Regions from separate parts of the Homo sapiens genome. Here region 1 is linked to region 2. The links come from fine-mapping of genetic effects on gene expression. A gene starts in region 2. The other region holds a variant in brackets. All regions are shown on one strand. Distances are between the middles of the regions.

The links. PIP is the estimated chance that this variant, and not a neighbour inherited with it, causes the effect.
Region 1: its variant is fine-mapped to the expression of TEKT3 in skeletal muscle (GTEx, PIP 0.94).

What each region holds. Positions count from the first base shown.
Region 1 is chr17:15,292,373-15,306,715 of GRCh38, forward strand. It overlaps TEKT3 (tektin 3), which reads right to left. Exons shown (of 9, transcript NM_031898.3): 9 at 11,440-11,780. The coding sequence ends at 11,564. All of the region lies in intron 1 of LOC124903932 (a long non-coding RNA gene), which reads left to right. Among named protein-coding and RNA genes, the nearest start is that of PMP22, 34 kb to the left of the region's middle. The variant G/T (reference allele first, on the strand shown) is at 10,345.
Region 2 is chr17:15,337,718-15,352,587 of GRCh38, forward strand. TEKT3 (tektin 3) reads right to left here and starts at 3,880. Exons shown (of 9, transcript NM_031898.3): 1 at 3,801-3,880; 2 at 2,311-2,344.

The DNA of each region.
Region 1 (14,343 bases), 46 kb before region 2:
TCATGGGACACACCGGTTCCCCTTCCTCTTCTGCCATGAGTGGAAGCTTCCTGAAGCCCTCACCAGAAGCAGATACTGGCACCGTGCTTCTTACAGCCTTTAGAACTGTGAGCTACATAAATCTCTTTCTTTATCAATTACCCAGTCTCAGACAACACAAACAGACTAAGACACCCCCAAACCCTGAGAGTATGAGTTGGTTTAGTTCACGTGGCTTGTGTTCATCAAGGACCAGCTGAACGTTTTCACAGCGTGGTCTACTGTCAGCTAACACCTCCTGGTCTAAAAGGAACTGCCCATCTTCCTGTGGTCTCCCAGAACAGCTCCTCTCCTTGACACTCCGATGGCACCATTGTCCCCAGCACCTCCAAGACATCTTCTGGATGTGCGTGAAAGGAGCCCCTAATTTACAAACCCTTACCACGTGATTTCTCCTCCTTCCACTCTGCTGCCTCCGCTAGCTTATTCTTCCTACTTCCTAAGTAGGTTCCATGGAGGCTTCTATTAAAAGCTTTTCTGGCTTCCTGATCCCAACAGGATTAATCAAAATTTCTTACCTTGGCACCCAAGAACCCTGGTGTCAGTGCACAGACGTTGTTTGCAGCATCTGTACTCACTGCCACCCTGATTGATACTGAAGTCAACAGGATTTGGATTTCAAGCTGGACTTGGTCTCGCAGTGGCTATGTGGGCTTGGGCAGGTTATTCAGCCTCACTCTCATCAAAGACCTTGGGTGGCGTAAGTGGGATTTCCTACATGTAGCCTGTATGTGTCAAACGATGAAGACCCTCCAGTGATCAAGGATCTTGCTTGTTGAACATAGACGCAGAACGTGGCTACACTGTACAACAGTAATGGTAACACCCCTGGACTTCAGAAGGTGAACAAAAGGGCTCCCCTCCCTTCCTTCTTCCATCTTCTCAGAGGTCAACACAGGGACCCTCCTTTGTTTCTTCTCTGCTCGTGGAGATCAACAAAGCGATTCTCTCTTCCTTTCTTCTTGGTCACCCCTTTTGACCCATTGGAGCTATTTATTTCTTGGCATCCCCAAAATGACCATTACATGTAATAGGTGTTCTGTAAGACTTTGCAAATGAATTGTTGCATGAGACCACCCATTCATTGTATAGAGAAAAGATCACTGAGAATGAACAGATCTTGGTTTAGGTTCAGATTTGCCCTATTCTGACTGCATCACATTCAACAACTATATAACCTTGCTAAGCTTTAGTGCCCTAAATTTTCATGGGGTGCTCTGGTCAGTGTTCAATAGCCGCACGTGGCTAGTGGCTGTCATTCAGACAGATAAGATGTAGAATATTCCCATCATTGCAGAAAGCCCTATTGGACAGTGCTGATAGATAAAACACTACAAGAAGGGTGGTGTGTCTGCCAATAATGTCATTAAATACTATTTATGGGAAATGCCTAGAACAGAAGCTACACAGACAACAGAAACACTGCATTTGGCAGAGGAGACAGCCTCTGTCTCTAGATTACTCCAGTGTGTCCATGGAACTCGATTAGTAGGGATTCAGACAAACAACTAAAAGACCCCATTGCAATCATCTGGGCTCATTGAATGATAGGAAAGAAGAGGAAAAGGCTACCTTGGAAAGGTAGCCCCACCTTACACAGGAGCCCCTAGTGTTCAGCCAAAGATACCAAGCAATTCTAAAAGATAATCTGAGGCTTCAAATGGGAAGTTATGGCTTTCAGGTTTTGTTTTTTGTTTTTTGTTTTTTTGAGACGGAGTCTCGCTCTGTCGCCCAGGCTGGAGTGCAGTGGGGTGATCTCGGCTCACTGCAAGCTCCGCCTCCCGGGCTCGCTCCCATTCTCCTGTCTCAGCCTCCCGAGTAGTACTTTTAGCAGAGACGGGGTTTCACCGAGTTAGCCAGGATGGTCTCTATCTCCTGACTTCGTGATTCCCCCGCCTCGGCCTCCCAAAGTGCTGGGATTACAGGCGTGAGCCACCGCACCTGGCCAGCTTTCAGGTTTTTAAGCTTCTTAATCGATGTAAGAAATCGAGCCTTCAGTCAAAAAGGCAAAGGGAGCTGCATGGTATTTAGCTCAGGGAAAGAGATTGGGAGGCAATGTATAAGAGATTATAGCTTATCCCAACGAGGAGATATTATCAGATGATTGCCGGACCTCCAATTTCCCCAGATCCCCTTCAATATAGTTCTATAATGTGTTACTATTAACAAATGCCTTGGCTGGATTTGGCATTACCAGCCTTACCCTTAGTTCCTCGAGGGCAATACCTATGTCCATCTTTTCACTCTTCACAGCACAACCACAGTGCTCCTGCAGGACTCAAGATTCATGTCACTCCTTGCCTTAAAACCCTCCAAAGGGTTCCAGATCCCACTCGCACACCCAGGATTGGCTACATAATTTGAGGCGCCCAGTGCAAAATGGATATGCAGGGCTCTTTGTTCAAAAATTATTAAGAATTTCAAGATGGGCTGGGCATGGTGGCTCACGCCTGTAATCCCAGCACTTTGGGAGGCCAGGGCGGGTGGATCACCTGAGGTTAGGCGTTTGAGACCAGCCCGGCCAACATGGTGAAACTCCATCTCTGCTAAAAATACAGAAATTAGTTAGTGTGGTGGCACGTGCCTGTAATTCCAGCTACTCAGGAGGCTGAGGCAGGAGAATCACTGGAACCCAAGAGCCGGAGGTTGTAGTGAGCCGAGATCGTGCCACTACACTCCAGTCTGAGCAACAGAGCTAGTCTCCATCTCAAAAATAAATAAATAAATACATAGAATTTCAAGATGGTGAGAATAAAGCACTAAACCAAGCATAGACCCTTCTGAGTCTCACACCAATGAAGCTGGCCCTGCCCCTACATAACTCCTATAGATAGCTACTCAAATTTTCAGGGTCTTTTAAAATGTGTTTCTCTCTATCTAGAACACCCATGGGGGCTCTCCCACTGCCATCGTGTTGCATATTGATTTCTCACCTTTCAGATAATTGCTTAAATGTCCCAACTTTGAAAAGCCTCCCAAGGCCCAAACACTCAAGTCCTTACAAATTCTCATAATTAACATAGTTCTTTGTATGATTATTGGTTGCCAGTATAATCCACTGACTGTAAGCTCTGTGAGGACAGACCCCATTTCTGTCTCATTCATCATATTATTTTCATGATCTCATAAAGCACTAGCACATAGAGGGTGTTCAGTAAAAATTGGTTTATTGAATCCGTGAATAAATGGATGAATTGCAATTTTCTACAGACCATCTCTTCAAAGGATTGGCAGGGGGGACAGGAGGAGGATGACTCTGGAGGCGAGCATACCACAATTCCCAGTCCAAATCCAGTTTCCAGCCTAGTGTCACTCAGGACACCTGATTCAACCAGCCCGAGAGCAGGGAGACAGTAAATCCAAAGATTTGGATCTATTTGTATATTATTGGACCATCCTATTGTTCCTACTGGGTCTCAGTGTATTCTTCTCACTTGCCACTGAATTTGACTTGCTTATATATTTTTCAGGGAGTTTTATTGATTACGAAAAAAGACTTCATTAGATTATTCCTCAAAGAAGTCTTACGGGTTTCCAACCTCTATTTTGAAAGACATAGCAATGGCTTCCGAAAGGCCAAGCAATGCAGCCTTTACAACTAAAAACATAAGCGTGTCTCATCTGACTGATAACAGTATTTAACTGAGGAGAGAGAGGCTATGACTGGGGTGGTAGAGGTCAAAAAAGAGTTTAGCCTCATCTGTAATGTTTCATCATCTTAAAAGGGTAATATATTTCTATGTTGTCATACAATTTTATATAATATTAAGATATAAAATGTAAGTCATTTGCTATGCAGGTAATATGGACAGAGAAAAAAAGAAAAAATATATGTAAATTAATATTATATATTTGCTTCACCTTCCTGGCCATAAAAAAATTAAAACTCAAATTCTTAAAAACAAGGATGCTATACCCAAAAAATCCATATATATGGATATACAGAAATAAATATATAGATATGGTTTAAATGTTAAAATAAGCAGCTGCCTTGATTATATCCATCACATAACTGACGCTACAGAGCTTCTCATTCTCATCATGGGATGGATTTTGTTGACTAGTATAATTCTCTAGTTGTTTTGTTCTCTTTACTGAGCCAGAGTATTTCACTAATGCCAATCTGGTTATTAAATTTTAATTTGATGTCTCTTCAACTCAAAATTACACTCTAACCGCGCAGTCTTCTGTAAAATCATGCAAAGGTAAAGAATCACAAGACTACGTGCCGTCAAGACCTTTTGTATTATCCATTTGGAATTTGTAGTAAGGCCCATGTCTTCGGCTCATGTGCCTCTTCCTCTGTTTGCCCAATTGACAGCTCAAATTTTGTGTTAGAGAATGTCAAGCTTCTTTTATTTTTTATGAATAGAATTAAGCTACACTATAATGCTGCTTTTGTAGACATGAATGAACAGGTATTGCACTATGGGTTAGGTCATATTTCTTGATTTCTAACAACATATACTTTTAAAGTTAATTTTACAGGTCTAGTCCCCCAGAATGACTCAATCTCCCATTTTCTATTGGACTGTACACTGGTGCTATAAATTAAAACCACATCATGTTACCTGTCCCAGCTGGTACATTCTTGCATCTCTGGGCCTCAGTTCATCTCAGGCCCAGTGTGGCCACCGACACTGCAATTTGAAGTATGAATAAAACAAACCTAAGCTCTAGGACTAAACTGGGGCACCCGTCTCTACTGTTATCCTTCTTAAGTTGCTTTGTAAAATAAGCATCTGAAGACATCATAGTATTATTTCAATCTCCAAGCCAGAGCTTTCTGTTTCTTACCAGGGTTTCAATAACCTCAACAGCAGGGTACAGCAGTTCCAGCCACACAGGGCACATTCCAGAGCAGAATAGAGGCTCCCTCTTTAGTCTGGGCACACGTTCTTCAGGTCTGCTTATTTGAGGCCTGCTCTCTGCTCCCCTAAAACTCCTTGTTGTTTCTCCAACCCAGCAGCTGAAGTTCAGCTGCCACTGAACCTCACTGTTGTTTCTGTTATAGTAAAGTGATACCAGGAAAGCTGAATAACCTTCGCTTATATCTCCTGGCTGGCCCCATAAGCGTTTGAGCTTGCCATCCCCACTCTATAGCTTCTGAGTGTTTTAACACTAAAGCGCCTTGGGTTGTTTTGGCTCTCATAGTCTTAGAAATACCTGCACCTCTGGGCTGGCTATTCTGTGCTTAGAGGGCCTTGCTTTGTCCTGTTTCCTAAATAGGTACAAACTTTTTTTTTTTTTTTTTTTTTGAGATGGGGTTTCTCTCTTGTTGCCCAGGCTGGAGTGTGACGGCACAATCTCCGCTCACCACAACCTCCGCCTCCCAGGTTCAAGCAATTCTCCTGCCTCAGCCTCCCAAGTAGCTGCAATTATAGGCATGCACCACCACACCTGGCTAATTTTGTATTTTTAATAGAGACGGGGTTTCTCCATGTTGGTCAGGCTAGTTAGTCTCAAACTCCCTACCTCAAGTGGTCCACCCGCCTCGGCCTCCCAAAGTGCTGGGATTACAGGCGTGAGCCACTGCACCCGGCTGAAAACTATTTCATTTTAGCCTGCTATTTCTAGGGATGGGATGTGCTCAATTGCCTAGCCAGCACTACCTGCACTCTGGGGAACTAAACAGTCTGAATTTCAGAGTGGAAAATGACCATTCATGTTATAGTCCCTGCATTCAGCTGTTTCTTCTGGTTGGTGCATCAGTCAGGATAGGCTAGGTTAGGCTGCAGTAACAACTCCATAGTGTCCATGGCTTACGACTGCACGAATATATTTCTTTCGCATGTTGAATGGCTGCAGTGGGTCAGCAAGTAAGTTCTGTTTATTGTGGTGGCTCAGAGAATATCTCAAATGTTCTCGGTTGTCATGTCAAAAGGAAGAAATCTTTGGACAATCTCACACTGGCAATTAAATATGCAAGTCTGAAGTGACTCACATCCCTTATGCTCGGTCACATGGATCCACTCATCCACAAGGGACTAAGGAGGTGGAATGCTGTAAATAGTTTAGTAGTCTAGGCCACTTATGGCTAGGTTGGTTTTCAATGACAGAGTTCTGGAAATCAAATAACTGTACCTCACTCAATCTCTTCTGGCATCCTGTTGGCAATACCCATTGACATTGATGAGTTGTGGGACTAGCCTCCATATACCTTTTATCAAATTGTCAGGGAATGGTTTTCTCTATCTGAAAAAACAGAGTACATAGATACTCAGTTCTTATACTTAAATTCTACTTAAAGATAGAATCAAAGAAGTTTAGAGCTAAGACTTGGCAATACTATGGTAACATTTATTGTACTGATGGTATTGATTATTTATAATAAAATATTACACCTTCATGAATATCTGTTGGGATATTAAAACATTGGTTTTAAAATAATTTCCTTTAAAAACACAACTTTTGAGGATGTCTAATTCATTCTAAACAGCTTAGAAGAAGGCACTGTAGGATGATAGCAAAGAGCTTTGGAAGCAAGCTCATCTGAGTTGAACTCCTGACTCTGAAATGCGCCCCTGTTTGGCTTTGGGTTATTTTCCTTCCCTAAGTCTCAATTTTCCCATTTTAGAATATAAATAATTAAATGTATGTACCTTAGCCATGATGTTGAAATAATACACGTACAGTTGTTCTGCTCAGGAAAAGCTGGCTATCATTATCATTACATGTATCAATCTCAAGATAGGATCAATGACACAGAAGCTGGATCCCACTCATGTTTTAATTTTATACACATTTTCCAAAAGTAAAAATTTCTTAAATGCTTCTGTCCTCAGATCTAATTCCAATAATGCAATCATTTTACACATTTTTTGTTGTTGCTGAGAAGGGAACCACTGTCTGGGATTACTCTCCTCTCAGAGACCAATTAACAGTATAGGGGCCGGGCGCGGTGGCTCACGCCTGTAATCCCAGCACTTTGGGAGGCCGAGGTGGGTGGATCATGAGGTCAGGAGATCGAGACCATCCTGGCTAACAAGGTGAAACCCCGTCTCTACTAAAAAATACAAAAAATTAGCCGGGCGCGGTGGCGGGCGCCTGTAGTCCCAGCTACTCGGGAGGCTGAGGCAGGAGAATGGCGTGAACCCGGGAAGCGGAGCTTGCAGTGAGCCGAGATTGCGCCACTGCAGTCCGCAGTCCAGCCTGGGCGACAGAGCGAGACTCCGTCTCAAAAAAAAAAAAAAAAAAAAAAAACAGTATAGGATGGTAGTTAAGAGCTCACATCCTAGTATCAGCCAAGAGGACTCAGGAGATTGTCATGTTATATGTTGGGATCATAGTAAGCACTCCACAAATGTTAGATGTCCTTCCTCTCCAGGAATTTGATTTCTGAGAATCCAGTGAAAACTTTAGTTGTCTATTGTCACGTAACAAATTACCTAAGAACTTAGTAGTTTAAGACAACAATCTATTATTTCTTGAGATTCTGTGGGTTGACTGAGCAGCCCTTCTCTCTCACATGGTATCAGCTGGGGCACTAGGAGAGTGGGAAGATCCCAAATGGCCTCACTCACATGGCTACCAGTTGGTGCCTGCCTAGCCTGAGAGCTCATCTAGGGCTGTTGGCTGGGGAGCCTCTCCGTGGGCTGCTTAAGCTCCCTCACAGCATGGTGGACTCAGGCTAGTCAGATTTCTTATATGGCAGCTAGCTTCCAAAAGCAGAAGCTTCCAGGCCTTCTTAAAGCCTAGACATAGAATTGACACAGTGTTACTTCCATTGCACTCTATTGGTCCAAGTGATCACAGAGTCCGCCTATATTCAAGGAGGGAAGACTTCACAAGGACATGAGTATTTGGAGGCATGGTTATTTTCCCACAGATATTTCCCACCAATATCTATGATATCCACCTTAGGGAACTGGGAAATTTGGTCGCCCCTTCCAGCACTGCTGCAAAGCATCAATATGTTAATCTTTCAGACTGTGCTACATGTGGTGCTCATGGGTGTTGTCTGTGGACCTGGCTTATTATTTTCCTCTCAGGTTGCTTGTCCTCCTCTCTCTTCAGGAGCCCCTGTCCTTGCTATACCCATGAAGAGCACTGGGGTTGAGAGATGAAGACAACCAGCTCGTTGCAAATAAATGGGTGGCCCTCAATACAGATATGGATTTTTATTATCAGAAAATGTGCAGTTTTGCTAAAGAGCAGGTTCTCGGGCAAGCAGAGCATCATTTTTATGGAAGTAGGGAAGGCATTCTTATGTCTGAGTGACTGCAGGGCTAAAATGCCAAAGACGGGAATGCTGAAACTTAGTCCAAAGATTTCACATCACCTTAAAAATTAACCTTTACTTTACAGGGAGGGAAAAAAGTGCTTGCAAAATAAAAGTTATTTTTATGGTTCCCACAGCCCTATGCATACACAAGCGGATATTATTTAGAATAGCTATGAAAGGCTCCCTGTTCTCAATAAGCTCTCCCCTCACTCTACCATGATGCCATCTGAGTTGTTCAGGAGTCATGGTGATGTATTTAGGGGTCTTTCCTTGCCAAAAGGAAAACGTGGGCTGCAGAAAGGGTCTCCTTCTAGCTCCTAGCAAAATTAGCAAATGGGTAGGTCCTATGGGAATGAGCCAGAGGTCACAAGACACATCCTTCTGATGTTGAAAGCCAAGGATTTCTCTGAGCTGAGAAAGAATTCAGAGCTGTTTAGAGAGAGGGATGAGGGAATGTATGCAGCCACTTCCCCATTCTGGATTCCCTGCAGATGGAACTGTCCCATTCTGTAGCCCAGGCTGGAGAGCAGTGGCATGATCATGGCTCACTACAGCCTTGACCTTCTGGGCACAAGTGATTCTCTCACCTCAGTCCCTCAAGTAGCTGGGACCACAGGTGTGTGCCACCATGCCTGGTTAATTTTTTTTATTTTGTAGAGAGATGGGGTCTCCCTATGTTGCCCAGGCTGGTCCTGAACTCTTGGCCTCAAGCAATCCTCCTGCCTCAGCCTCCCAAAATGCTGAAGTCCTAAAATTCTTAAACAGGACCACGCTTCTGATCCTTGGAGCTCTTGGACTTCAGCAGGAGCCACAGCACCCATTTCATATGGCACTATCTGTTGACCTCTCAGGATCCTTCTCAACTCAACCTTCCAGATAAACATTCCCAGTGGTCTAGGACTGGCCCCCAAGGTGAATTGATTCACCATTCCTGGGGAAGAGATTGAGTATTGTTTATTTTCCCCATGAATGCATGAATACTTATCAGACCATATATATTAATATAGAGCTCAGATAGCATCATCAGAGCACTCTGCATAGAAGGCTGGTCTTGGCAGTTGGTGCCAATGGTGAATCCAGCCCTGCTGGGAACAGTTTCAGGGCCAGGGCTAGAAGAGGGGAGGCTGCAAGGGAAGACTCGGGCACAATGATGAGCAGCAGCTTCACCTCCTCCTTTGTGCTTTGGGTTAGCCCTGCATACAAAGGGAAGGAATCCGCCCGTTTCTGGTGCAAAACAAAAATTATAACCTAAAATCAGACCCCACACTTCAGCTATTTACAGCATGAACTCAGGACTCAAAAGTGCCAGGTGAGGTGTTTATGACAACACTCTCCGGAGACAGAAATGGAAATTACTAAAATTACAGGCGACTCGGTTATTTAGGGGCAATTACACACATTTCTAAATCTGAATGATGCTTGGGTAAGTGGAAGCCTTTGACATTCCAGCAGCCCTTCTTAAAGCCACATGATATTAAAGATAGTTTGGGCTTAAATAAATAAAGCCAGATCATGTGCCAGTATTTGTAGTCCTAAGATTCTTAAACAGGACCACGCTTCTGAGCCTTGGAGCTCTTGGACTTCAGCATTAGAATATTTACCCTCCTGGAGTAGCTGCAACATTTTAGATGAGAAACCAAATGTTTATTTGTGGAATTTAGCCTTGCCCACGGTTTACCAAAATAACAAAAAAAACTTTTCTATGTCTGAATTACATTTCCTTCCCATCACAGTCTTGTAATGCCAGGAATATATATGCTTCAGTAAAAGGACTGCATAAGCATATATTCCTAAAAAAAAAAAAATACAGTTCATGAAAAAAGTCAGAAATGTTTTACCCCAAACACATAACAAATAAGAGACATGCTGAATTTATGTTTATTCCCACTATTGTCTAAAAGTCATAACTACCAACATTTGGTTACTCTCATTGCTAAAAATTTTAGTGGCATTTATATACCTTTGTTTCCATTAGAGGCAAAAACAGAACAACTAAACCTACAATTTGATTTCTAAAATGATATACTGAGACCACAGCACAACCCCAATACAAGCTTCTCATCTGGACATCCACTCTTCTG[G/T]CATTCTGAGATGATTTGTGAAATTTACTAACCAAGGTCTTAAAACACTTTTAAGAAACAGAGAGAGAGAAGGAAATGGAGTTGGGGTTAATGGACAGTGGTTAAGGCAGAGCAAGGAGAACACAAGGATACAGAGAGAAATGCTAATAAGAGAGAGAGACACAGAAGCGTGAGAAATAGGAGAGAAAAGAAAGAAAATCTTGCTCCCCTCCTGGTTCATCTTCCCATTTCAGAGCTCTCAGACCAAAAGGATTCAAAACTAGCATGCTTTCTACACCATCTAAACATACTTTCCAGGTGATTAAATGCCACTTTTAAACATACAAAAGAATTAGAATAAATTATAAATAAATTATCTTGGGATACAGAAGTGCTTTCTGAGCATAATTCCAAAGGCATAAATCACACAGAAAACACTGACACATTTTTACTTGTGTATTTTAAAAAACCATAAACAAAATGTGAAGGTAAGTAACATATAAAGAATATATTGTCAGTACATAGGACAAAAGTGTCACATATGAAGAAATACAGTGGGCGAGGTGCCTGGAGAAGGGGGGCAGTGGGTGTTCAACTCCAGGTTCAGGGGCTGGGGGAACTGAGGAGTATCTCTGAGCATGGAAATGGCTTTATGAAAGCAATGCTCAAGTAATAAAAGTTTGAATTGGAGAGATGAGAGTGGAACAAAAAGAGACGTGCAGAACACATTATGAATTATGCATTATGAATCACAGCCAAGCTGGCCCTACCTACTATTGTTCCAAATGCACTCCGTATTTCTCTACCTTTGTTTTTGATCAAATTACCCCAACTACCTCATACCCAGTGGCCTTTCCCCTTCTTACTGTGGATCCTTTAAAGCAAAACTCAGAAACCACCTACTTCATGATTCCTGACTGCCTCAGAGAGAATACAGTCCTCCTTTCCAGCCCATTCGGATTACACACAAAATGACAAGAATCACACCAGTTATCCTTTTTACCTTCTCTATTAGATTGATTATATTTCTTCATATCCTTCCCATAACCCAGACGCCTAGTAAATAATAGAAAATTAAGGTTTGGATGCAAACAAAAGGCTTTCCGAGACAGGAGGTTGGTACATTTCCATCAGCATAATCCTTTAATAAGTGACTATATTAGCATTCGGTTCAAATGCTGAGACAGTGCTCTGGCTCAGCCTTAACTTAGGGGTATCAAAACCACACCCGGTGGGGTCCCTAGCAGAAGCCGACCAGCCGGAGGGTGTTGGGGTAGCTCTTGCGCATGCTCATGCATTTTTCCTGGTCGATGTACAGGGAATTGGCTTTGACAGCCAGGTCATACTCGAGTGTGGCTTTGATGTGGACCAGCGACTGCAGGGTGTCCTCTGCATCCCTCAGGCGCTGCTGCAGGGTCTGGATGGTGTCGTCAACCTCGTGTACCTCGTTAACAAGGCTGCAGCATAAAGGAATCAGCATGGTTAGGTCAGCATGTAGCTTACGCAACTCCAAGTACATCACATTGTAACCAGCGATGCAAAGCTCACATTTTCTTTACTTTAGGATATATTTATCAGCAAATGAGAGGTGCATGAAATTAATAAAATATAAAGAAATATAAAGAGAATGGTGACAATGAACCAATGGGAATGTAGATGTCCCAGGAGATAGAAAAGGATTTCATAATTATAGAAAAATATCTAGACCATTTTAAAATCATTATGCCAAGGCAATTCTATAGTTTCACAGAAATTCACAACTGGAAAACGAATTTAGAGAGGTCACCAAGCCCAACTTCCTTGTTTTACAGACTAGGAAATAGAGCCCAGGGGTTCATAAGCTGTCCTTTCCATCGACACAGGGCCCACATGTGTTTGTAAGCTGTACCTGCTTATCCAGGAAGCTAAGAAGGAAATTCAGCGCTTCAGTGGCCATAATAAGAAACTGGGTCCCATTTCCTGGCCCCATTCCCCTCTCAGCTCCTTGAGACAGAAGAGTAGAAGCAGAGACCCAGGAAGACCTATCTCATCATCTGCAGACACATCCTGGAATATGCTTGCAATTTCTCAGACCTCGAGGGCTTCACTCTTGCTGTCCCCTAAGCTCAGAATGCTCCTAACCCATTCTTCATCCCGCTAATTTATCCCATCCTCAAATCCTAGGTGAATTAACACTTCTTCCGGAAGTCCCTCCCTTAAACCGGAAACCATCTGCTGCCCAGTGTTGTGACTTCCAAAAGGACCAAGCCTTTTACGGCACTCAGGGTCTTGTGATTGTCTGCTTGCAACATCTGCTGTCCTTGCCCAGGGCTACATCCACAGCCGCTCCTGCAAAAATACAGGTGTGCAAAAACTACTTATTGGGTGAAGACCAACTTTCATGCCCTAGGTGAAACGGAGGACGTCTTGGGAGGTAGAGAGTTGCCCAAGGTCTGAATCCATGGGATCTACTAAGAACAAGACCCAGACCCAAGGCAATAAAAAGGAAGGAAAGGCAGGACGGAGCCTGGAGCATTCGCTTCCAAGCCACTTGTAGGTGGCCTAAGAAGAGGAAGGCTGTGGTAAAGGCCCCCACGCAGGCTGATTGAAGCAACAACAGGCCATGGGAACATATCCACGCTGTGCAACACCTTTCATCTTACAAGCTCTACTGTCTCCTGCTTTCCAATGGGGAGGGGAAGAATTAAAGTTTAAGTGCCAAAGTTTGGTTTTGTCTGGGGACGGTAAACACAAAACCTGAGAACTCATCAGAAAGCAAATTTCTTGTTATTGTTTAGGCCAAACTGAATTAAAAAAGAAAGGCTTTTTAAAGATCCCAGGGTATAAAATATCACTAGCAAAGAAATACATCTTCGGCGAGGCTGCCGCAGATGGCTGGTAATGGGATTTTTGATGGTGGATTGTTTACAATCACACGGGGCCTGCCTCTTGTCTCCCACCCTCCCTGGCTTCAACAGGAACCCTGAACCCCAACGTAGGAAACAGAGCAGGATGATATATGTGTCTTTACTCCTTTCAGCCAAATACGAGTCTAGTGGAAATTTTATCTGGGAGGGAACATTTGAAAATATACATGTCAAAACATCAATGCTAAAAAAAAAAAAAAAATCGAGATATAGAACGTAGGCAGTTAGAATACTTGTTTTCACACTGCTGCATGGACACAACTAGGGAATAACATGCTTCCACTTCTCTCATCGTTAATTAGAAATATATTTTTCATCATCTTCAAGGCCCTATTTCACTCCCAGTTTCCTTGTTCTTGGCTGATTGCAGAGAGCTGTTCTGCTGAAGTCACTCTTTCTCTTTCTTTCTTCTTTTTTTTGGAATTACAGAACCACAAAATGTCTTGCATTCAAATACAAATAAAGCTACCACAGTTTATTTATATATATGTGTGTGTGTGTGTGTGTGTGTGTGTGTGTGTGTGTGTGCATATATATATACATAAAGATTATTTAAGTAGAGCAGAGCCTGGTCTGTCTGGCCTGCCACCAAAAATGCCAAGAATGTTTAGAATCACTTTTGAAATAACTCGTTTAGAACATTTTTAAATAAAAGTAAGTCTTGAAATGAAAACAGCAATTTTTCTCAGTCCCCACTCCCCTTAGTTTATGATCTTTATTTTTTCTAAATCTAGACCGCCGAAGGGCTGCTTTCAGAACCATCCATTTAAAAAGGAAAGTAATCCCCTCCCCCAATAATAATCCTAAAGATTTTTGGCAAGGATATTTTAACAAGAAAACTTGACAGAAACAAAAGTAGGTTTTGTTCAAAAGTCAGTAAAGGAGCAGAGGAAATAGACATACCATGAAGTCGGCAGGAAGTGAAAGAAAAGCAAATTCTGTTTAGCCAGGAATAGGAAAAAAAAAAAAAAGAGTAAAAATCATTCAGCTCCTCAGGAGAAGCTGTGAATGCCTCATTGTTTGATAATTCCGAAGTCCTATTAGACCACTACCCAAAACTCATTTTAAAAGCAACCCTGTGTCTGTCTAACGGCAGTATAAACAATTTATTTGT
Region 2 (14,870 bases):
TGTAATCCCAGCTACTCAGGAGGCTGAGGCAGAGAATTGCTTGAACCTGGGAGGCGGAGGTTGCAGTGAGCCGAGATCATGCCACTGCACTCCAGCCTGGGCGACAGAGTGAGACTCCATCTCAAGAGAAAAGAAAAAAGAAATAAATAAAAGTATGAGAAAAGATAGACTGTTTAAACACTAATCAAAAGAATACAGAAGTGGCTATATTAATATCAAATCAAGTAGACTTCTAAACAAGAAATATTATCGGAGATAAAGAGAAAAATAAGGATAAAGGGATCAGTCAAGGAGATATAGCAATATTAAATGTTTATGTAATCATTTACCTAACTTTCAACACCTAAAGCAAAAATTGACAGAACTAAAATGAGAAATAGACAAATCCACATTATATTTCAATATTTCAACGTTTGTCTGTTAGTAAATCATAGAGCAAGTAAACAAAATATTGGTTAATACAATATTTAGCAATATTACTAACAACTTTATGGCAAGAAATTTGACAACATAGATGAAATGGACAAAATTTTTGAAAGATACAAATAACCAAAACTGATTAAAGAAGAGTTAGAAAACCTGAGTAGCCTTGTAGTATTTTTTAAAAATTGAATCTACAGTTTAAAAACTTTCCTCAAAGAAAACTTCAAGCTCCAATGGGTTCACTGGTGAATTCTACCAAACTTTTAAGGAAGAAATACCTCAGTTTTTAAAAGCCTATGGCTTACTTTGGTGGTGCGCATCTTTCACAATGATTAACTTACTCTCTAAATTCTAACTCAGTCAATTCTTTTTTTTTTTTTTGAGATGGAGTCTCGCTCTGTCCCCCAGGCTGGAGTGCAGTGGCGCCAAGATGGCGCCACTGCAAGCTCCGCCTCCTGGGTTCACGCCATTCTCCTGCCTCAGCCTCCAGCGTAGCTGGGACTACAGCCGCCTGCCACCACACCTGGCTAATTTTTTTTTTTTTTTTTTTTTTTTTTTAGTAGAGACGGGTTTCACCGTGTTAGCTAGGATGGTCTCGATCTCCTGAACTCGTGATCTGCCAGCCTCGGCCTCCCAAAGTGTTGGGATTACAGGCGTGAGCCACCGCGCCCAGCCAGTCAATTCTTAAGAGAGCATGTGCAGCACATACTAAGATCATTAACCGATGCTATAAATATCTCATACTTGCAAAGAAACAGCAAATTCTTTGGAAAAATGACTGAAAATAGCTATGGAAAAATCCCCTAAATTAGGCAACTGCTTATTATACATTTAATCATGATGTTTTGGTTTGAATGTTTCCCTCTAAAACTCAAGTTGAAATTTAATTACCATTGTGCAGTATTAAGAGGTGAGACTTTTAAGAGGTGATTATGTTATAAGGGGTCTGACCTCATGAATGGAATAATGCCATTATTGTGGGAGTGGATTAGTTATCACAGAAGTGGGCTCCTGATAAAATAATAAATTCACCCCCGTTGTCTCTGTCTCTTTCATTCACTTGTCCTTCTGCCATATTATGATGTAGCAAGAAGACCCCCATCAGATGTAGCCCCTGGATCTTGGACTTCCTAGCCTCCAGAACTGTGAGCCCAATAAATCTCCGCCTTTATAAATCACCCAGTCTCTGGTATTCTGTTATAGCAGCAGAAAACTAAGACATGTGCCCAAACAGAATTTTAAGAAATGAGACATGGGCTACAAAGTCAAATACAATGTTTGACTAGGTGCACTTAATTTACAGTCAACTGTTATTTACATACTGAAAAAAATGCTACAATAGTCTTCCATAAATATTAACATACTAAATATAGAATCAATCACACAGAGATTTTAAGAACCGGAAAGCTCCATTTGCTATCCAAAAGTTGGCTTCATACTGGGTAAACATTTTATTAGCATATTTAAGCAAGACTGGAAGATCATAAATATTTTAAAGTACAAAAATCTACAGACCATTTTCTGCAGAAGACACAAGTTTACATGACTTGCCCCACACCCTGCCTTAGATCAGGGGCAAGCATAGGCTTGAAGGGCTCACATACAAACCCCTTTAGTTCCTTTGTAGCCACTTAATTACAGTTCTAAATAGGAGCGGAAATAAAACAGCGCTGCCAATACACTAACAAATACCAGAAGTAGAAGAAATCATATCAGACATCAATGTTTAATTTCTCTTTATGCATATATTACATAAGAATACAGGAAAACTTCATCTCTTCAAAAAAAAAAGTTTGGTTAAGGAACTCTATTCATCGATGGTATATAAATTATTACACTTTGGAGAGCTAGATGGTGGTATCCAGTAAAGTTGAAATGGCAAATTACCTGTGACTCAGCAATTCAATTTCTTGGTATGTACCTAGAGAAATGCAAATATGTTTACAATTAGAATGTACAAGAATTCCTTTCTAGTATTTTTAAAGGGAGCAAACTAAAAGTCCATCAACAGGAGGATGCATACATAATATGTGGTAAATTCATGCAAGAATCACCACACAACAGTTCAAATGAATGACCTGCAACACGTACAGCATAACCATTCTATCAACTTAAAAAGTAACAGTAGGCCGGGCGCGGTCCTCATGCCTGTAATCCCAGCACTTTGGGAGGATCACGAGGTCAGGAGTTCGAGACCAGCCTGGCCAACTTGGTGAAACCCCCTCTCTACTAAAAATACAAAAAAAAAAAAAAAAAATTGGCCAGTTGTGGTGGCAGGCACCTGTAATCCCAGCTACTCAGGGGGCTGAGGCAGGAGAATCGCTTGAATCTGGGAGGCGGAGGTTCCGGTGAGCTGAGATCATGCCATTGCACTCCAGCCTGGGCGACAAGAGCGAGACTCCGTCTCAAAAAAAAAGTATACATTGGTTTAGGATAAACATATGAGTAGTAAAAGTATAAAAATATGCAGAATATAAGTAAATGCTAAATTCTGTTGGTTAATAGGGATAGGTAAGGAGAGAGGGGAATGGGATTTCCAAGGGTTACATAACAGACCTTAATTGTGCCTGTAATCGATTTTTTGTTGGTTTAAGTTTGGACTGGGTACATGGATTCACCCCTGGGTTCACTCTACTTATTGTGTGAAGTATTTTATTTTAAAGAAGAAAAAAGTAGAATATTTTGTCAGTTACCTCAAAACATTTTCGCCTGTTAGTAAAACTGTATATTTTTTTCACAATAATCAAACAAATAATTTTACCCATTTCCAGGATGTTTATTTCTCTACAATACTATATACATCCAGGAGAAAACATAAAGGGGTTTGGTCTAAACTGCCCAAACACAAGCGAAAGCTTTGCAGCCAAGCTAAACAGAAACGACTTTGGGCGGTGAGAGAACAGCTTTGATCTGAATTTAAGGAGCTCGGTCTACAAGACCAGGTGATTGAACTCTCCTCCCCGTGGCTGCAGATCTGAAGGCTCGGCTATTGAAGCAGAGGGGGACGAGGAACAGCGTGCGGGGCGGCCAGCACCGCAGTGGAAAGGCACAGCGCTGCTAACGGGTAATTATTAGAATTAAGAAATTAAACGAATTAGCACAGTGTCGGGGGTTCGGATGCCCCTTCCCTGGGCATCCCTTGAAAACCCTTGAAAAGCATCAGAAAGGTAAATTACGAGGAAACCAACGTCTGGGTGGGAGGTGCCTGTGGATTTGTACGGTTTTTATTTGGAAGGAAAAGTGAAGATCGCGGGGAGGAATTGCAGGGTGTCCGCGACCTCCCGCGATCCTGAGGCGAGAAGTTGGAGTCCTGGTTGGCGAAGGGGGATCCTTTGGGGTAGTCCTAGAGGCAGGCTAGAGTCAGCGAGACCACTCACCTGTCGGCGGATGCCCGGCGAGGGGCGGGAAGGGGCTGTGGGAGGAAGGGGTCGCAGCCTACCACCTGCAGCCCTCGACTGGGGCCCAGACCAGTCTGGCCCTGGCCCCGCCTTTCCTATCTGTGACGATAGCAGCGCCTGAGGGCCACTCAGCGGCCGCCCCGGCCGGCTCGCCGGAGCTGACTGGCCAGTTATAGGAGAGGCGGGAGCTGTCAGGCCAGGAGGGAAACCCGTCGGGCGGCGGTTACTATGGACGCGCTCACGCTTAGTAACCGAGGCTCCCCGCCCTCCGGGAGACCTCCTTGGTTTGGGAGGTGAAAGGGGTGAAGAGTAGCCCAAGGGAGAGGCCTCGGTGATTTCCCGACCTCTCCTGTGAAGCCTGATTCGGAACTCTTCCAGCTGCGAAGAACTTGGCCGATTCTAAGGCACATCAGGGCTGCCTGGAACCCTAACACCTGCCTAGGTGTTGACAAGCCCCCACCTTTCCTGACCAGCCTCTCTTCTCTCCAGCAGAGCTTCTCCTGTGACAGAATTATCTAGTGTTCCTTCCCTGCTTCCTCACTCTAAGAAAATGGTTTGGGCTTTCCCTCTCTCTCTTCAGCAAATATTTCCGTAAACAGCAGCCCGTACTGTTTCTTCCAGGTGCTGGCCCACATTTTTACATACATACATCATTGCTCATCCATGCAACCTCTTTCCAAACCTGTAAGAGGGGTTTATATTGTACAGATGAAGAAACTGAAGTTCGAGAAGTTAATTGACTTAGACAATGTGACTCAGTGGCAGAGCTAACACTAAAACTCAAATCAGTCAAACTTCAAGGCATCTTTCCATGAGGCAGCAGTCTAACCGTGTGAGCAGCAAGAGAATTCACCGAGTTACTTTGGTAACTAGTAATGCTAAAGAAAATAAAGCCCTCAGTTAATTATTTTTGGCTTTTCTGGGAATCACTGTGTGGCACTCCACCCAAGGACGAGGCGGAGGGACTTGCCAGGATAAGGCAGGCTGCCCAGCCCCTAGGAGACCTCAATGAAGTGACTTCAAGTCGGGGGCTGGTCCTCAGCTTTGCCAATTCAGACTCTTGGTTATGCCAGTGTCCCGAGTTTATTAGAGGCTGACTCAGGCCAACCGAACTCATGGGAACCTAATCTAGAAAAGTTAGAATGCTGCCTCAAGTGTTTACATTAAGCAACACGACCCCTCTAACTGTGGAGATGAGCCCAGAGTATTTTCCCCAAAGAGGAAAACCACAGAAAACACCCAGTGCTCAGAGGCTACTCATTTGCCTAGACACAAGACTAGACAAGGCTCCCATACCCGACACCAGGGCACTGCAAATCCTGACTAGTTTTCCCACTATGTTCCTTATCAGCAACTTTTTCTACATTCGGCCTAAGAAACATTTCACTCTGAGCTGTCTTTTTTTATTACTTTTTTCTCATGCATAGTGTTCTGCATTTTGTATTTTCAGTATTCAGCACGGGCTTTGCAGATGCCTAGAATCCGTAGACAATGCAGCAAATGATGCCATGTTTGTTCTTTGGGCCAAAAGACTGGCAACTGTTCTAAAGTAGATCTGATTGCCCACAAACTCTTTAAAGATGATGAGCAGTCTTTGTGCTTTGCACACATCTAGATGCCCAATAGCATTGCTAATTGAAGACAAAATTCATTCAATGTCTGATTTAAAAATAAACAGGTGAAATTATAGCAGAATTTGATCTTTTCAATGATACATTGAGTCAGTGAATTTCAAAAACCTCCTGATTAAAATTTCAGGTTAAATTGATCAACTCTGTTCTCCATAGAAAGGATTGAATGATGTTTTGGAAATAATTTAGATACCCTCTCAAAAAAAATTGTCTCATGATTATCAAGTCTTTGCCAGAATTGAGGTTAATGCTTGCCCTTCAGTTTTACAGTACGATAGAGACCTCCTACAATGCTTATTAAAAAAAATAAAGCAAGACCACTAGGATTCAGCTATTCAACCTTACTTTCTCAGCAGCTCCACAAGTTCAGGAATGTGTCTGTTTCTGTTCATCTCTGTATCCCCAGCATGGGGCTTCCTACCTGCCATGAAAGAGGGACTCAGTCAATGTTTGTTAAATGAAAGCATGAAGTGTGATGTTTAGTGGGGTAGGAAACTATCAAAGATACAGAAGTGGAGAAGCAATAAAGCAGACTTTGCCTATTTTATAACTTTGCCTTAGTCATTTTCATAACTTGAAGTCATTTTTATAACTTCCTTAGCTGCTACATTTTCACTCTATTTAGAGTCACCAAACCTCCTCTCCAGTCTTTCTGAGCCTTCCTATCACTCAACCATCGCCCTTCATCAAGATGCTATCAGCCCCTTTGAGCTGTCTATCCTTATCAGAAATCAAGTGTGGGCCTAGCCATCTTCACCCCTGGACTTCCACCCCCGTTCCCATCCTCACAGTGACTCACGTCCACAGCCTGCTTTCTCCATTTCTCCTCCAGCACTAAAGTTAATCATCACATTCTTCCTATTCCCCTGACCTCACCCCATGCCTCTCTCCCCCTCACTCACTGCGTACTAGCTACACTGGCTTTTTTTGTTTGTTTGTTTGTTTGTTTGTTTTTGAGATGGAGTTTCACTCTTGTTGCCCATGCTGGAGTGCAATGGTGGTGCGATCTCTGCTCACCGCAAATTCTGCCTCCCAGGTTCAAGTGATTCTCCTGTCTCAGCCTCTCGAGTAGCTGGGATTACAGGCATGTGCCACCATGCCCCGCTAATTTTGTATTTTTAGTGGAGACGGGGTTTCACCATTTTGATCAGGCTGGTCTCGTACTCCCGACCTCAGGTGATCTGCCCGTCCTGGCTTCCCAAAGTGCTGGGATTACAGGTGTGAGCCACCACACCCAGCCTACACTGGCTCTTATTCAGGTTTCTTGATGCTCTAAGCTCTTTGCCACCTCAGGGCCTTTGCACATGCATTTGTGTCATTCCAGTTTCCAGTTATTTATTTTGTGTGATTATTTAATTAACATCTAAGTTCCCTTCCAGAATATGAGTGTCAACAGGGGAGGGGAGGGAAGGAAGCAGGACTGTTTTGCTCACCACTGAAAACTCAGCAGTTCACCTGCTGGTGCTGAGGAGGGCAGAGTACTGTGAGGAGGCCCATTGCACCTCTGACAGCTCCTAAGGGGGATTAAAACAAAAACACAAAACCAAAAACACCTCTCCCACAGCTGCGCTCACAATTCAACAGAGGGATTAGATGCCAGACTTTCTAGTTCCAAACCCTGATGTGGATGATGAGAGGAAAGCTCCCGGCTCTGTCACAGCCACTCCAGTGTTCCCAAAACCCAAATGTTCTGATGGGAGCCCCCTATACATTTATTTGATGTCCTTGCTACATGTCTGGCCCTTTGCCAAGTGCTGGAATGGAAACAAAGTGGGGTCACAACCCCAGTGGCTCCACGACAGCGCTGCTGCTGAGATGGGGAGCAAGTTCATTCAGGGATGAATCTTATAATTATCCTCTTCCAACCTTTGCTGGTTCCTCAGGGTTTAAAAAAGGAGGTCTCAACTCCTCAGATCAGCATCCAGAGCTCTCCATGATCTGGTCCTAGCCTGGCAGTGCAGCCCCGTGTCCACACTCCCCACTCCATGATCCCAAACATGAGTGAACACACAACCCTGCCTCTAACATCCTGTGATTTTTCTGATCCCTGACTTGCTCATGCTGTTCCCTGTACCTAGCATCTTCTTCCTCCTTAATATTGCCCCAAATTTATAGAATCTACTCATGTTTTCATGTCAATGTCAAATGCTACCTCCAAAATACTGTTTGTTTTGTCTGTCAAAATTAATTTACTTTCCCTGTGTATATTTGTGTAGCATGTACAATCCACTTGATGTTATGCTTACTTACTGATGTTTCTGACTCCATAGACTGAGCAGTCCTTGCATCTGCACACAGACATACACACCCCACCATTGCTCTGCACTAATACAAATCATAGTTACTATTTATTAAACCCTCACTCTGTGCCATATATCATATATTATGCTAGCTTTACATACAGTATTTCATTTATGGCTCCTCATACCACAATGGGATAGGCCATTATCATTTCCGTTGTCTAAATGAAGTGGGGATTCCATTGGAGAGGTTAGGTAGCTTGACCAGTGCCACACAGACAACAAGAGGAAGAGCTGCGCTTTCAATCCAGTTCTTTCTGGCTTTCAATTCTGTGCTCCTCACCTCTATACTACAAGCACAAAGTACCAACCATGAAGAAGTAGCTTTTAATGATTATGCCATGTCAGGAACCACTCATTCCATCCATGAACTCCTCCACCTCTTTCACCAGCCCTGAGAGGCAGGTATTACTGCACCAGCACCTAGTCAACAAATACTAATGGCTTGTTGAATTACTTTGTGTGAGACTGACAACAGCAGACAAAGCCAGTACTGGGACAGAGGTCCCCTGTTAGGAGGTCCTAAAGTCAACTTTTGTAGGGATGAAAACCTTTAAAAAGGCAGTCAGAATAATGACACTCTCCAGAGAGGAGAGTGAGTGGTCCACAGAGTGGCCACAGAGCAGGTGGCTGGTCCAAGAGAGTTTAAACAAACCCCGCCCCCACCCCACCGCCCCCCCACCCCCGAGTCCCGCCCCGCTGCCGCCCAAGATTCTAGGACTGGAGTCCTTACAGGCGATGTTTGCTGTTAGCACAAAGTCCAATGGTACCACAAGAGTACTGGCTGAGACAGCTGAAGGTGCTCACAACTACTTTGTGAGATCCTTTAAAGATCTGCAAGATTATAATAGGGCAATGGAAAAACTTCTGCTCATTCTGGATGGCAGAGCAGGAGACAGTGAATGGGAAGCTTGTTAGACACGCAAGTGGATGAGAAAGCAAGCAGGTAGTGCCAGCACAGTCTGCTTCCATCAGAAGAGGGGCGGCACTCGGGGCTGAAATGGAGTCAGCGAGTTCCACTCTTCAGCTCTGCAGCACACAAAAAAGAAAATTCTTACTGCATTAGTTTGGTGTTTCCGGAAGTGTGTTCCCTGAACTATTCAATCAATCAATCGTTAATAAAATAATAGTTCCATCAGCAAATATATTTGTGAATTTCTAACACAAAAAAAGTTAAATACCTTTCTTTAACACAAGAATCCTCCGAGTCTGTAATGTGCCAATTTGTATTTTCCCATGGAATTCTAACCACAGAGTTTTTAAAACTCAGAACATTTTAACATCCCCCAGGACACTCATGGAACACAGTTTGGGGAACCTGCTTTAGCATAATGCAGCAATTCCAAATTTTAGCATTAACGTGCCCTAAAAATATATTTCAGTCAGAAAAAGAAAAATTTTTGCCCATATCTAGCTTATTTCAGACATTCTCTAAAGCAATATAGAAATAACTGACTTATCTGTGTATTCAGTATAGAAAACTCCATTGTGATTTGATGACAGTTTCCCTATTAAGTATCTTGTCTAGAAATGTGTGTGTGTGTGTGTGGGTGTGTGTGTGCATGAAGGTGATTCATGGAAAAGTAAAGAAAAAAAGAGTAAGAGAGGTGAAAGAGGTATAGTTGTCCTTTGGTATCCTTGGGGAACTGGTTCCAGGACCCCATAAATATCAAATTCTCAGATGCTCAAATCCCTTATATAAAAATAACATAGTATTTGCACATAACCCACATATATCCTCCCATATAGTTTAAATCACCTCTAAATTACTTATAATACCTAATACAATGTAAATGCCATGTAAATAGTTGTTATACTTTATTTTTTTATTTGTATTATGTTTTATTGTTGGATTGTTGTCTTTATTTTTTAAAAATATTTTCTATCCACAGTTGGTGAATCCAAGGATGTGGAATCTATAGATATGGAGGGCTGATGGTATATGGGGATGTGAGTGAGGAGTGGAAGGGGAGGGCTGATGGTATATGGGGATGTGAGTGAGGAGTGGAGGGGAGGGCTGATGGTATATGGGGGTGTGAGTGAGGAGTGGAAGGGGAGGGCTGATGGTATGTGGGGGTGTGAGTGAGGAGTGGAAGGGGAGGGCTGATGGTATGTGGGGGTGTGAGTGAGGAGTGGAAGGGGAATGTTAGGAAGTGGAAAAAGAAAACGCTGCCTTTATAGCCAAACTGTCTCTAACCTGCTGATTTCTTCTAAAACCTTTTAAGTCCATACTTACATTTATAGCTATGTAAACAGAGAAATTGGTAATATTTGCATTGTAGGAGAGGTAACAGAAATGTCTTCCATCTCAATTTTATAGTAATATAGTTTCTAGACGTGTTTTTTCACTGTTGTTGCAAATCACTTAGAAAAAAGTGGTATTTTACTCAAATTTTCATCATCAATATCAATGGTATTATTTTCCTTGATTTCTGCACTGGGAATCTGTACTTTTAGAAACAGCAATGTCAATCTATGAACTGGATGTGGGATCTGAATGGACTTAACGGGTAGAATATGACATTAATATTTACATAAAAGGGCTTCATGGAAGATTGGTTAGGAACCTCAGCTGGGTGTGTAATGCATTCATTGAGAATTTTTATCACTTACAACGGCAAGGTGATACCAGTTGTCACGGCTGTGTTTTGCTTATGTTACTAAGCTATTAAAAGGGGTGTGTATCACTGTCAGCTTTTTCAATTGAATAGACTTTTTCAGAGCATGAAATTGCAGGGCACGCCTTGCTGGGAATGCTTCCAGAGAGCCAAGATGTGTAAACTCAGCCAGGATTATTCTTATCTGAATATCTATCCCGTGTTTAGTAGATGGAAGAGCTATGATTCAAGAGGTTAAGTGATATGCCCAAGGTCACAGTCACATTTTTGCTCATGATCAGTCTCCTGACCAAGTAGAAAGTGGTGGGTTTCCACAGTGCTCTCTTTAGCTTCTCTGAGAGCCATTATGTTATTGTTGTATGTTTTCACAGATTGCCACTCCTGTTAGACTATGAGTCCCATGAGAATAAGGACAGTGTTTTTCCAGCCTTCATCACAGGAACCATTTTTGAAGCACCTGCTCTGTGCAAGCCTCATATACCTCATTTATATCTCTCAGACTAACCCCATGAGATTTATAACAGTACTTCTCTTTTACAGAGACTTAGAGGTTAGGTAACTTGACCAAGGCCACATTAGCTAGAAGGTGATACAGCTGGAATTCAACCTAGGATGTCTGACCCCAAAGCCTGTGATCTTTCCCCTACCTCAAATGGCTGTACATTTTTCCTGTGCATTCTCCTTGTTAGTCCTTAGCACTGACTGACCATCGGGCTAGGCCTGTGGTGCACTTCTGCTATGTGTTTATTGAATGAATGCATGGATGGATGAGAATCATAACTTGGGAAACAATGACCAGCTTTCCTCCTGGAACTTACTGGTGGTGTGGTATTGGGCAAACCCCCAGATCAACTGGATCTCTCCATAAGAAGAAAACAATAATGCCTCACTAGTCCGAAGGGAAGATAATGAATCAGATGCTCTATCGAAGTCTTTTCCAGAAAACAGACTGAAGCTGGGATGCTCGCTTGTAAATGGTTCTTGGAGAGCCCATCAGGCATGGAACCTATTTCTATAGGAACTGTCTGCTCCTCTTTTTGTCCTGGGAGAAATGTAACTCAAGGGAAAAGAAATCAAGGTTGGAGTTATCAGGTGAGATGCATTGTGAGTAATCAACAACCTCCCCAGCAGCCAAGATGGCTAGACAATCAATCAGTCTTCGTGCCTGAAGACTTTCTTGTATCATCTGGGACTACCCTGAACTTTAACCTTAAAGTTTCACTTATAAGGTCCTGGTATTATTCACCGACAGTCCTATGTCATAAATTAATCATCATCAACAACAAAAATGACTCATATTAAGCATTATAGGGAGATCCTTATAACCTAAAGAAGCAGATAGAAACACAGATGGGATACTTAGAGTGGGGAAAAATGCTTGGTTTAATGTTGTTAAGAGTCATTAAATGGTAACCATTGGATTATGGATAGTGTTGTGTTATAGATTGTATTTTGTACTATGTATTTAAAAAACGGGGAACTATACCAAGGCTACCTAAAAAGATCTGACATTTTAAGATCTGAGGGCATTTATAATATGCTCTCTATGATTCTGTAGAAACCGAGTATTATAAAGAAACATTGACTACTACTAACAGAAGGACACAAACTGGTCTAAGGAGGCTGATATCTTATCAGAGGTACATGGTGTTTCATCCAGATAAGCCAATAGGACCTTTATTAGTTTAGAACAATTACCTTTTGAGCTCAGCTACTACCACTAGTAAGAAGTTAGAATCTTCTTAAGAGGAAGACAGAGCATGTCAAACAGAATCAGAGAGTCAACATCTCTAATTTACCATCAGTCATGCAATCACTGAACAATTTGTAACTCTCAGTAGCATGCAAGACAATGAATTATGAAATGTGAGTGACAGTGGTGTACTGGAACTGGGTCATACTGGCTTGCAAGACTATTGTTAAATTTTCAAGAATTTTGCAAGCTCATTAAGCACAGCCTTTATTAAAAACTACATTATATAAATTTACTGTTTAGTAAATTATATTAAAACAATGGCAACAGATACCCAAAATTTATCACCTTCTAATTATTTCACAATATTTTATTGTTTTATGTCTTGAAGTTTATTTTCATCTATTGTATCTTTATAATGGAAACACTTTATCGTGATGTACTACTGAGCATCTCTTCCCAACTCTGACATCAGCAACATTGGTAGCTTGAAAATGACTACAGTGGGAGTATTTACATTATGGAAATGATCAATAGCCACAAAGCAAGGCTTGATTTATAGTTTTGTTGATTGTCTAAACTCAAGAAAGTGATGGAAAGTATAATGCACATTAAAGTATCTCCTGTTTGTAGCCATGAAATTGTGACAGGCACACACACACACACACACACAAATTGAAGCTACATTCTCCCACTATTTGAAAATAATTATCTGATTCAGCAAAGAAGTCATTCGTGTCATTAAAGTTTCCATATACATCTTCATTTTTGTCTTGTTAATGTGAACGGAGCTGTCAACCAACATTCATGTTGGACTCCTCTTATTCATTAATTGCAACTACAGGTTGGTTAGAAATACAAGAGTTTGGCAAAAATCAACAAAATAATTCTGTAAAAACCAACTGGCTATATGGAATTTATAATACAGAGTATTTGTATATTTTATTACTATTTATAAATTATAAGCTAAGAATTGTTTAATATCATTAAAATATAATAAACATTATGTACAGATACATACATTTTTCCCCAGAGATTCAGCTGTTAAATGTTTGTATCACTGTGAATGGGCCCCTGTTTCTGTCCTTAAGAGGTTAACATTTGGTGGGACGTGGGCAAAAATCCTACAGTGCAGGCTCTGGTGTGGTCAAAGCCATCAGAAAGAAACCCAGTCTCTTCGGAGCTCAGAAGAGGAAAAAGCACTGCCAGCCAGGAAAAACTGAAAGTTTTCATTTACGGGCTACAGAGAAAATTGTGTAGATCTTTAAACTGACAAGAGTTTGTGGAAACAAAAGCAGAGTTGGATATAGATAGATGTGCTGTATTTTTATAAAATATTTGAAATGTCATTTCTCAGTGATTTAATAAGAAAGTTAATTTATTTTTGTTGACATTGTTGGAAATAGTTTATCTTTTGTTTATAAACCAGAAACAGCCAGAGTCTGGCGTGTGTTAACTTGAGTCTGATTTGTGCTGGTCTTTGTCTAATTTACGTTCGCTTCAGTCAGCCAGTTATGAGGTTGCCAGGCTGTGGAGATGAAGGTGGCAGATAGCGGGCTGAGTCTTCCACAACCTTAGCGCAAGCTTCCAACACAGCTTGTCAGGCTATATAGGGAAGAATCTATTCAGCTTAGGGTGTGCGTGCTGACTGTGGGCCCCTGGGGAAGGAAGCCTCTCTAGCTATCTCTTTACGAAGCTATAGCAGACGCTGTCCACACTTCAACCCATGTCTCCTCGGACCCTTTGATCATTTTCCTGAGCACAGACTCCCCGTATGCTTATTCTTACATCTCCTTGAAGATGAACTGTCCTCAGGCTGCCAGAATCTACTTTGCTTAGGCAAGAAAGCCTGGAAGTGCTTGGGAATTTGTGCCTCAGGCCAATCCATAACCAAAGACTAATGAGTTCTGGGGTATAAATACCCCAGATGCTCTTCTCCTGAGGCGTGACCCTCTGAGGCATGACCTACCCTGTTTCCAGAGCTCCTCCTGTGGGAATGAACCAAAGTTACCCTCCTGGGACTTTGCTGGATACCACATTCCTGCATCTCCCAACTTCCCTTCTATAATAGATCCTACTTCCCCATTTCTTTCCCAGTTTTTCCCAGTAGAACATTTCTTGATAAATCACTTTCACACTAATCCTTGGAGTCTTCTTCTGGTGAACCTGACCTAAGACAGTGGCCATGTTTTATGTGGTGTGTTCCCCACCCCCATTTATTGGCCATGAATGTTTGGACCACAGGTAAACACCCAGCTCAAAGGTGGCCCCTCTGTGGACTGGCCAGTGGATTGAGGTGGCATAGCTCAAGTGCCAACCTAGGCAGATCCTCTCTCTCATGGGGTTTGATATTGAGTCATATAGAGAGTGACTGAGTCATCATATTTGATATTGCAAAACTCTGGCTGAGATTCACGACTCGATCTGCCAAGAAGCAATGAGATAACTCTCACTGGAGCCTTCTTACATTCTGAAGGACTTTGTCGTTTGCAAACATGCTCCCATTTCCATGGCATTTCTTAATTCTATGTGATTCCTTCCTATAATCCTCATTACTCAAGGTAATGGGATGTCTCTGGTCCTCAAAAAGCCTAAAATACAAGCTAGGAATCACCTCATTGAGGGACCTAATTTTCTGGCCATTTATTGCTGAATTATTTAGGGAAAGGGCCCTGAAAATTATCAAAGAGGCCATAATGATTTGAGTAGAAGCAACATGGAGCCAAATTAGCATTCATATAAGTTGGATAATGAAGATGAGGGAATCTATTTGAGATATTAAAAAGCTGAAAGGAAGCAGACTAGTG